Homo sapiens: one gene and its partners. The protein of the gene in region 3 purifies or fractionates together with the protein of the main gene of each other region. This does not show direct contact. Each region holds a gene or a part of one and is shown on either strand. Other genes may lie near its edges.

The links.
Region 1: the proteins of PRELID3B (region 3) and ETFB purify together in Homo sapiens (co-immunoprecipitation; one large-scale study listed by IntAct). This does not show direct contact.
Region 2: the proteins of PRELID3B (region 3) and SPHKAP purify together in Homo sapiens (affinity purification with mass spectrometry; one large-scale study listed by BioGRID and IntAct). This does not show direct contact.

The regions. Positions count from the first base shown.
Region 1 is NC_000019.10:51,347,029-51,349,543, reverse strand, and holds part of ETFB (electron transfer flavoprotein subunit beta), read left to right. Parts: intron 1-2,485; coding exon 2,486-2,515. UniProt on the Homo sapiens protein: Heterodimeric electron transfer flavoprotein that accepts electrons from several mitochondrial dehydrogenases, including acyl-CoA dehydrogenases, glutaryl-CoA and sarcosine dehydrogenase.
Region 2 is NC_000002.12:228,178,788-228,183,019, forward strand, and holds the start of SPHKAP (A-kinase anchor protein SPHKAP), read right to left. Parts: upstream 2,901-4,232; 5' UTR 2,812-2,900; coding exon 2,780-2,811; intron 1-2,779. UniProt on the Homo sapiens protein: Anchoring protein that binds preferentially to the type I regulatory subunit of c-AMP-dependent protein kinase (PKA type I) and targets it to distinct subcellular compartments. May act as a converging factor linking cAMP and sphingosine signaling pathways.
Region 3 is NC_000020.11:59,036,255-59,039,909, reverse strand, and holds part of PRELID3B (PRELI domain containing protein 3B), read left to right. Parts: intron 1-1,275; coding exon 1,276-1,444; intron 1,445-2,629; coding exon 2,630-2,719; intron 2,720-3,149; coding exon 3,150-3,220; intron 3,221-3,336; coding exon 3,337-3,439; intron 3,440-3,655.

The DNA of each region.
Region 1 (2,515 bases), on a different chromosome or scaffold from region 3:
TTCAGGAGGTCAAGACTGCAGTGAGCTGTGATCATACCACTGTACTCCAGCCTAGGTGAAAGAGGGAAACCCTGTCTCAAAAGAAAAAAAAAAAAAGAAGCAAGGCACATAGACAAATTTAAAATTTTTCACAGCTACATAAAAAAGTAAAAAGAAACAGACAAAATTATATTTTATTTCACCCCATTATATCTAAAATATTATTTTAACATGTAATCAACATAAAAATATTAAGATACATATGCTCTACAAGCAATGGGGTTACGTCCTGATAAATCCATCATAAATTGAAAATATTATAACTGAGAGAATGCATTTAATATTCTTAATCTACCAAATATCATAGCTGAGCCCAGCCTACCTTAAACATGTCACAACACTTAACGTTAGCCTACAGTGGGGTAAAATAATCTAACATAAAGCACATTTTATAATAAAGTGCTAAATATCCCATGTAATTTATCAAATACTGTACTGGAACTAAAAAAACGGAATGGTTGTACGGACACTGGCAGTATGGTTTCTACTGAATGTTTATCACTGTCACATCATCGGAAAACTGAAAAATCTTAATTCAAACCATCATAAGTCAGGGACCATCTGTATTTTACGTTTTTTGGATTTTCTTTGTACTAAATCTTCAAAATTCAGCATGTATTTTATATTTACAGCACATCTCAATTCAGGTGCTAAATTTCTATGAGAAACACATTCCTAAAGATGACAGTTGAAATAGATTTACACACCCAAGTTGTTCAAAACAAACTTAAAAGTTTTCTAGTAACTGCATTTCCAGTAACTGCATTGGGTATCTGTGTTTTTTTGTTTGTTTGTTTGTTTGTTTTTGTTTTTTTTTTAAACAGCTTCGTTGAGTTATTTACCTACAATAAACCGCACATATCTAAGTTGCACAATTTGTTAAGTTTGCTTTTCTTAAACTCTTTTATTTAGATAGAGATGGGGGTCTCACTATGTTGCCCAAGCTGGTCTTTAACTCCTGGGCTCAAGCAAGCTGCTCACCTCAGCCCTCCAAAATTTAAGTTTTGATATGTGTTACATCCATGAAATCATCACCACAATCATGATAATGTGTCTTGAATTCTCAGTATTTATTTATTTTTATTTTTTTGAGGTGGAGTCTTGTTCTGTCCCCAGACTGGAGTGCAGTGGCGCGATCTTGGCTCACTGCAGCCTCCGCCTCCCGAATTTAAGCGATTCTCCTGCCTCAGCCTCCCGAGTAGATCGGATTACAAGCGTGCATCACCATACCTGGATAATTTTTGTATTTTTAGTAGAGACAGGGTTTCGCCATGTTGGCCAGGCTGGTCTTGAACTCCTGACCTCAAGTGATCCACCCGCCTTGGCCCCTCAAAGTGCTGGGATTACAGGCATGAACCACTGCGCCTGGCCAAATTATCAGTATTTAAATTTAAATAAAATGTAAAAATTCATTCCTCAGCTGCACTGGCTGGACAGCCACACGCAGCCAGTGGCTACTGGATGGGACAACACATTCAAAACCATTATCCTGTTTTATCTTCAAAGCATTTACCACTGTCTGACTAGCTTCTCCAACGTGCGCCCTTCTTGCTCTCATATCATGTGTCTTATTTTCTTCTTATTCCTTCTGATTGGAAATGATCTCATTTGTGTGTGTGTGTTTTTCCCTGGTGACTGGTTGTCTTCCCTGGCAGAATATGAGCCCACCCAAGCTGGTGCTTCACTGGTCGTGTTCACAGTGTGTCTCCAGGGGCAGGTTCATAAGGGCACTAGGAGGAGGTTGTGAATGAAGGGAGGTGATGTTCACACTAAGACCTGAAAAATGTGTCCAGTTAATAAGTGGACAGGGACAAAGGTCGTTAGACAAAGAGGAGTGTAGGTGGCATCAGTTACCAGGGGAGGAAATGTTGATTCAGGACTGAGAGGCAAAGGGACCTGGCTAGAGGACGGGGTCCCAGAAGGTGGTTTAAGGACTGGTGTGGACACACACAGTTCTGTTGTCTGCCCAGCGGAGGGGCCTCACGGGGGGCCGTTGGGAGCCAGATTGTCAGCTTTTGGATTTACCAGCTGTGGGTGGCAGTGGGCGTGTAACTCAGCATCTTGCTGCCTCAGTTTCTCTCATCTGTAAAGTGGGGATAATAACATTTACCTCATAAAGTTCCTGCGAGGATTCGATGACTTGATACATCAGTTGCTTAGCACAGGGCTCAGCACTCAGTACATGTTCCCTGTCAGGAAGGCAGGGAGGCCTCACTGGCAGCATCAGGACATGGGACATCAGGACATACACCGTGGCTCTCAGGGAAAGGAAAAAGACCCTCTCCCAGGTGTACAAGCTCGATTCTAAACCTCATGGGACCCTGCATTGTTCGCTCCCTCATTCATTCACTAGTCCATGCGTGTACTCAGTAGTGGCATAAGCAGACTGCTCGGGTCGGACCTGAATTAGCCTCACCCACTCTCCTCCTACACTGTCCCTCCCCAGGGCACATTCGCCTCCCAGGTGACGCTGGAG
Region 2 (4,232 bases), on a different chromosome or scaffold from region 3:
AACCAGTGATTTTAAGAAATCTGTGACGCAATCCACATAATTTACTGCACCTTTAAAAATGAAAATATTCATAGTAAAAATGAATTAGAGTTTTCACAGAAGGAAGGGAATACAGTTTAATAACTCAAAGAACCCAAAACATTTCCTTAAAAAAAAAAAACATGTTTTACAGTTTCTGAAGTATATGAGTCAAATTTAGTTTTAATATCAATCATCACAGAATATTGCTTGATTGAAATTTCAGTAATTTATATTTGTGTTTAATTGAAAATTCTAAGAAAATGGAAAAGCCAACATAAAATATATTCTATAATTAACTCAATGTTATTAAATCATTTTGTTTTCTCTAATGATTAAGTAGAATGTCTTAAATTGTTTTCTAATTCTTAAGAGAAACAGTGATTTATAACCACCAACTTAATTTTATTAGATACCAAAAATGTTTTCAGACTTGGACATCACAAGCCTTGACAATAGCAATTTGATATTTGCTGATCATTGTTGGTTTCTTCGAAAAGCTTATGTGGAATATTCAATAATCAATTCTTTAAAATGCAATGTTTTGTGAACAAGTAGCATGACTAATACATGATTTGTCTACACCATTAAAAATTTTAATTTTCTTTTTGCATCCCAATCCCTATGGCTTTCAATTAAGTCTTATAGAAAAGGAATGGTGTTTCTTGTATACAATGAAATAGAGGATTGAATCAACTCATGTACAGGAGTTAATTTACATGATTAAGAATGCTAATAAAATACCCGAAATTACTACACTGATTTGTGGATTAAGAAGGCTAATAAAATACCGGAAATTACTACACTGATTTGTGGAAATTGGTGAATAAAAAGTCAGGTTCAAAAAGCTTAGTTTGCTGCAGCTGATATTAAGCCTATATTAACATTTTGATAGGCCACTACAAGATACAGAGCAATATCATCAGAGTTGCTTTGCTCTTTATAAGGTCATTTTATAGTACTGAGACAGAAATAATTGTAATAAATTACTGGCACAATGTGTTTCTAGTAATTTAGAAAATGTTCCGGTATTTGAATAGAAATATAATCAGGATTCAGGCGCAGCTATATTGGTCTGTAAAACCGGATTAAAGCAATCAATCTGTTATCAAAAATCTCTGTCGGAAGATTATTAGGACCACCCAATTCACCGTTTCAATTCTAATGACCATTTGCCCTAGACAGTAGAATAGATAGGTGGAGAAAGTGAGCTTCCAATTTACATGACTTTCCAAACACCTTAATGCCTTTGCGTAAACATCACTGGCAATTTTTTTTAAGTTAAAAAATCGGCAAAATGGAAAGACAGCGGTGGTCCTTTGACCCTGTTCCGCTGGGGCAGGGATCGGGAGGGTGGGGATTGAGACTTCACTTAAGAGCTGCTTCAAGGAGTGCACAGAAACCACAGCGGGCCTTTTCTGAACCATTTGCTATCCCCGCAGCGAAGGGACGCTTAAGGAGGAAGTGCCTGTGGAGCTGAGAAAGCGTTATTTCATCGCGGAATACAAATAATTCAGGTCTCTAGATGGCAGCCTTCAATGCCTTTGGAAAGCAGTCTCTCTCCTCCTCCGCCACCCCCACCTCCCCTCCCACCGCATCTCGGCTCCTTGGCAATGTAGTATCACTCCATGTGTGCCCTGGCCAGTGGATATTGGGTTTTGCTGCTCTCCAAGAATCCGAACTTAAAGTGTTTATTCTAGGGCCTGGTGCTCTGCTCTGGAAGCTACCTACCTACCTGCTTGGGGAAAAGAGGGAGTAGGGATGGCACGAAGAGCCACGCTAAGCCGCTGCCCAGGAGAGGTGGGGCTGCGCCGCAGCCAGGACACCCTCTCCCTGGGAGCAACAGCATCCTTGGCTCCCGGCGCGAGCGCTCCGCGCCCAGCGAGCGCAAAGAGCGCAAAGGCCACCTGCCCGGCTGGGGGAGCAGGCCCAGCACCACCGCCCCGATTTACCCAGACATTTATGGGAAAGACATAAAAATCTCAGGTTCTTAATTTCGCAAAGGACTGAGTTAGAAGGAGTGTGGAACAGGGGCAAAAAAGAGACAGGAGAAAGAAACACACCCCGAAAAACACGTTACTCGCACCCGGCAGCGCCTGGGGTGGCGTCCGTGACCTACCCCGGTGTGGGGGACGAGCAAAACCAAAGGTGTTAAAGAAGGAACTCGCAGACTGGCAGGGGGTGTGGGGACGGTGGAGGACTGTGGGACTGCAGGGGACCTAGGTGTTTTCTGCCCTGTCTTAAGATCTCGCTTTGGGGGCAGTCTAGGTGTCGGTCGGGGGTGAGGGACAATCTTCCCCACCCCAGCAGCCCCAGACACCCGCCCAGGTCAAGGTGGAAGGAAAGCGGGGGTACTTTGCCCTAGCCCGGTTCCCTCCTGTTTTAGACCTTGGAATCTGTCTCTCCACAAGGTGTGAAACCTCTCCAAGCTGTGTCCGCGGAAAGTCCGGCTCCTGGCTCCACCTAGGGCAGAGCAGACCTCCGTCCCTGGGCCTTAGAGGCGGGCACGGGGCTGACCCCCAACCCGTGCCACTCCAGCGCACAGGCCCCACTCAGCATCGCGCCCTGTGGGGCAGTTGACAGGGTCCCCTGTAGCTCCAGCGAGGCTGGGCCGGACTTATTTACAAGTGCAGTGACCCCTGTCTCCTCGCTGGGAGCCCCGTGCAAACCGAAGCGCTCTGGGGCAAGTTGGTGAGCGACTCACAACGCGGAACGGAGTTTGATCGACATGGTATTGGGCATAGAAAGAAGCGGGTCTTACCTTGGTACCGAGAGCAGGGAGTTGCCATCCATTGTTGGTGGGCGCCCAGAGAAGAAAGACGGAAAGTGCAGGCGAAGGATAAGTCTGTGGTGCTAGGACCCAGCTCCCAGAGTGCCAGACTGGCGCGCGCCAGGAGAGAGGCGCGCAGGCTGGGGCGGCGGCGGCGCCCACGGAGACTAGCTCCTCCCTGGCCAGCAAGCTCTGTGCGCTGCGACCGCCCGCTGTCCCCTCCCGCCGTCCTCTCTGATCTTGCAGGAGCGCGTGGCCAACGCTCCCACCTTTCTGCCTGGCTCCTGCCTCCTGCAGGCGGGCCCCAGTCTCAGTTGCTCGAGGATCCTGCTCTATCGCTCATTCGTGCCCAGAAGCATAGGTGACTCCGACAAAATTCCTCTCTCCCCAACCACCATCGTCTCCCCTCCCTTTCTCGCTGGCGTACAGTAGGTCTGAGCCCTGAAGTTGTTCACGCACTTTCCCACATTCACGCCCTCACTCCTGGCAATGCCGACACTCCCCACTGGTTGCGCGCCACTCCTCTGGCTTCCTGTGTCGATTTCATTTTTGTTTGTGGTCTACCATGTTATGGTCGATCACTCAGAACGATGCTGGCTTTGACCTCCTAAGTCTTTTCCCTTTATTTGGACTTTCTCTCTTGGTTTTGGTTTTCACGTTTCTTTAACTCATTTTGCTTAACTGTGACTTAGTCTTCTCTCTCTTCTGTTAGAACCGTGTGCGCACATAGAAATCTCAAAACCTATGAGAGCGGCCATCCATCCGAGGACAGCACTCAGAACCTGGGAGGGAGAGCTGTCACAAACTTCCCCAGTTGACGGCTGGGTATCTCCCTGAGCAAAAAGGACAGTTTTCTTAAGAAGAAAGACACTGATAGTAGCAAATATCTGCTAAAATGAGGGCGCTGTTGAATCTGCTTCTTTTTCCAATTAAAAAACAAATTAAAAATAAAATTTGGGACTTCCACAAATGGGAAGGTTGAGCCAATGTACTTTTAGCTATTCCTCCTAGTAAGTACAACGAAATCCCCCGGATATTATCTCTGAAACAGGCATGAGAAAAAGGTGGACAGAAGAATGCAGACCAGCTAGAGATCCTGGGACTCAAGGCTTGGCATGATGATGGGTTCCTGAGGTTCTCCCAGACTTTGGCTGAAGAAGATGACAACCCGGAAATGTCAAGGGGCAGAGACAGGAAAAGCCTTGACAAAGGACTCCTCTTTCTAGCCAAAGGATCAGGAGAGAGGCAGCTTAGCAAGATGGAAAATTTACACACAATAATAGCTCCACTGTGGCCAAACACCATGAGAAAAAACCTGTGGACCTTTTTCAACTACACCATCAAAGGCCAAGTAGGGAGCCTACATTTCACCATCTGTAGGCTCTAAGGATGTAAGTCAGTCCCCTGGGCGAGGTGGTGTCAGAGGAGACTAAGTAGGGACCAG
Region 3 (3,655 bases):
ACCTGCATTGATTGCTGGATAAGGCTGGAGACTAAAGACAGAATGAGGTTCATTGGTACAATATTGTATAGAAAAGAATATTATAATGAAAACATTAAAAATGATGTCACTGGTTGTCCAGGGTTCTGGGAAATTAATGGAGTTGAGATTTTCCTTTTGTCAACGAGATGTAGTTGTCAATCTGAGTTCTCTAAAAGGTTGGAATAATGTCTACTTGTTTTACTTTTAGAAAAATAAAAAGTAATGCTGTGTGGCTTAACAGTCATTGTGGCTTGAACATCATCCCCAGATCTTGTCTTTTTCCTTTAAATGAAGATGAGAGCACAGATAAGTAGTGTAGAAAGCATCCGAATCAGACTGCAGGTGGACTAAGTCACCTTTAATACTGATTGTACTTAATAAGGGGTCCTTTTGAAAATGATATTTTTTGTACAAGTGTCTTATTCACAGAAGTTGTGAAGTGAACAAAGGTTGCATCACATTTTGAATCATCCAAGCACATGTGCCTTTTTGAAGAAAATAAAGATACTGCAAGTTCTCAAGTGATGTGATATTATTACCACTTCAATACTAGGTGATAAGCAAGTGCTTATTATATTAAAAGAGAATATTAGAAAATAGTATATTAGGAGTGCACCTTAAGGACATTTTATTATATTGAGTGACCTTTTCAAAACAGAAATCAGAATCACTCTTTTGAGAAAAACAGTAGATAAAGATTGACTGGAGGAGCCATTGTTATGTATTACATTAAAATGAAGGGAAAGTTCAATAATTAAATCAATGCTTTGGATCTTTTTGTGATCCCTGTAAGAATTTATAGTGCCCATAAACTCTTTTACTTTTGTTACTTCCGTATAAACTGATAGAATTGGGGTCAGAAAAAATAATAAATGGCATAATGATACTTTTGGCTATTTGTTTCAGTAGAACATAATTTTTAAATACATTTTCATGAATCATTGGTTCTTCCTAGAAACAATTTACATGTGAAAGTGGATAAGGATAAGTAGGAAAGATGGTGTAGACTGCTTTGATCTTTATAGATATGAGTTTTTTTACATAGCCTGTATTGTGGAAAAATACTGAAGCCTGTTAAAAATGTAGATCAGTTTCCCATAATCATCAGTGTTTCAGAAGGTAATTTTTCCTAGGTAAACTCATTAAACTTACATTGTAATGAATGATTTGATAGATTATAAAAATTGTTTAACTCATATGCATAATTTTAAATGTCTGAATTTTTTTTTTTTTTTTTTTGGTTCACATCGGCAGCCACCCGTGGGAAACTGTTACAACAGCTGCAATGCAGAAATACCCAAACCCTATGAACCCAAGTGTGGTTGGAGTTGATGTGTTGGACAGACATATAGATCCCTCTGGAAAGTTGCACAGCCACAGACTTCTCAGCACAGAGTGGGGACTGCCTTCCATTGTGAAGTCTGTAAGTGTGTCTTTATTCCCGGAGAAATGTGACTGCTGTAGAGAAGTTTTCTAAACCGCATTATACTTTCAAATAGGTTGTGGGAGCCGATTCTGAATGTCATTTTTTGCATCCGTTCAAGTTGTATTATAATAAACTTGAATTATGAGTGTATAATGAATTGGAAATATTATTACAGTCTTCATGAAGGCACCCAATAAAATTTTCTTAAGGAAGCCAGCTAATGCCGTGTGATCTGAAAGGAGTTCTATTCTGCTTTTTCTGCTTTTGCCAGCAACTTGAGACCAATACTAAGGTTTGGCAGTAATGGTCTGGTCATAATTGTTAGGTGACAGTTCTGTGGTCAGTGGTGGGTTGTGTACATTAAGTAAGGACTATGTTCTCGGACTTGTTATTGCCACATTTGTTCCAAGGTCTGGAACTCCTTCCTGTACATTTAGAAACAATTCTATTCCCTTAAGAATGAGCAGGCTTTAGTGAGCAGATTTTACCAGGAAGAAACTAAAATGCCAGTTTACCATAATGCGAGAAAACTGGTATAATAAGTGGATCCAGGTTTCTTTAGAGGGTCTCTTTATGGAGAGTAGGTTCACTAAGAAAACTAAAGTACACATTTTCAATAGGAATGTACTTACTGCCTCCTTATGCAAACCATAGTGCAGACACAGAAATGAGCAGGGTCAGGGGGTGGGCTTGGGGTCATAGCACAGGGAGTGACAGTGGACACTGACGTGTGAGCCTCCATCGTAAGAACGCTGTTTTTCTGTCTGGAGAATGAAGCTGAGGTGCCCCCTCCCTTGGGCTGTTCTAGGAAGATACTGACAGATGCCTTTGAGTTCTCCTTTTTCTAGCTGCCATGTTGCCCCAAACCTGATTTCCATATCTCAGCCTCAGCGCTCCACCGTCGCACCGCGGCAGATTCAGCGTGCTGCCTCACGTTGCAGACGTTCTCAGTGGGCTGGTTTCTAATTGCCTCCGGGAAAAGTTTTTGTGTCTGGCAGTCTCCTCTCATCCATGATATGTGAATAGGCCTCCTTTCTGACCTTTGCTTGTTTCCTCTGGTTTTTAGAAAACAGATTTTTGGTTCAAAATATTGTAACACATTTTTTCCTTCAAATAAAATATTGATAGACTTGGTAAGAAATTCTTCCTCCTCTGATTCCTAGTTCTGAATGTTTTACTTAGCTTATTGGTGCAGCAAGAACGAAAACATATGTGCAAGAACATTCTGTAGTTGATCCTGTAGAGAAAACAATGGAACTTAAATCTACTAATGTAAGTCTTGGCTCCCTTTTGTTTCATTTCGAACTGTCTGGCTGAGTTCTTTGTCCCTCTCCTAGTTGCCGTAGAAGTGAGTGCGTGTTCATGATGTGGTTCAGAGAATCCCTGCTTATGTGCTGGCCTAACTTGGCCCTGGATGTTGCTTCCTTACCCTTCCTGCTCTCATGATCTTGCCTATCTCTAAGGGGATAGCACTCAATAAAATGAGTTTGGGATTATGTGTATTATCATTATTATACTTTATTTCCTCAACTTTGCTTTTTAAATAAAAAGTAGGCAGTGAATAGTTTATGCAATAATAGCAGCGGTTTATTTGTTGTTTTGTATGTTTAGTAAGATTTTGGCTTGTGTGTTGATTTTAGCAACATTTTGAATCTTCAGTTCCAAAATGATTTGATCTTTTTTTTTTTTCTTCATTCTGTAGATTTCATTTACAAACATGGTTTCAGTAGATGAGAGACTTATATACAAACCACATCCTCAGGATCCAGAAAAGTGAGTAAAAAATATTTTAACAAATGTATCGTAAAGGGTGTTTAAGGTTTTTTTATCAAGTTTTTTGAAAATGAAAGCTGGGTCATCTGAACCTGTGTGAATATGTTTTGTTCCAGAACTGTTTTGACACAAGAAGCCATAATTACCGTGAAAGGAGTTAGCCTCAGCAGTTACCTTGAAGGACTGATGGCAAGTACGATATCCTCAAATGCTAGTAAAGTAAGTGAGGCTGCTTCTTGGTTATTATTCCCTGGTTCATTTCCTGGGAATGGAATGGGGTGCTGACTGCATGTGTGTCCTTGTAAGCTGACCCTTGCCCATTCTACCATAGGAAACTGCAGCACGTTGGGCAGTTACTTACAAAGGCTCTGGGTTCACATCCAAGCTCTAACTTTTAGCCTTTTAACCTTGGGCAACTAAGTTAACCTTTCTATG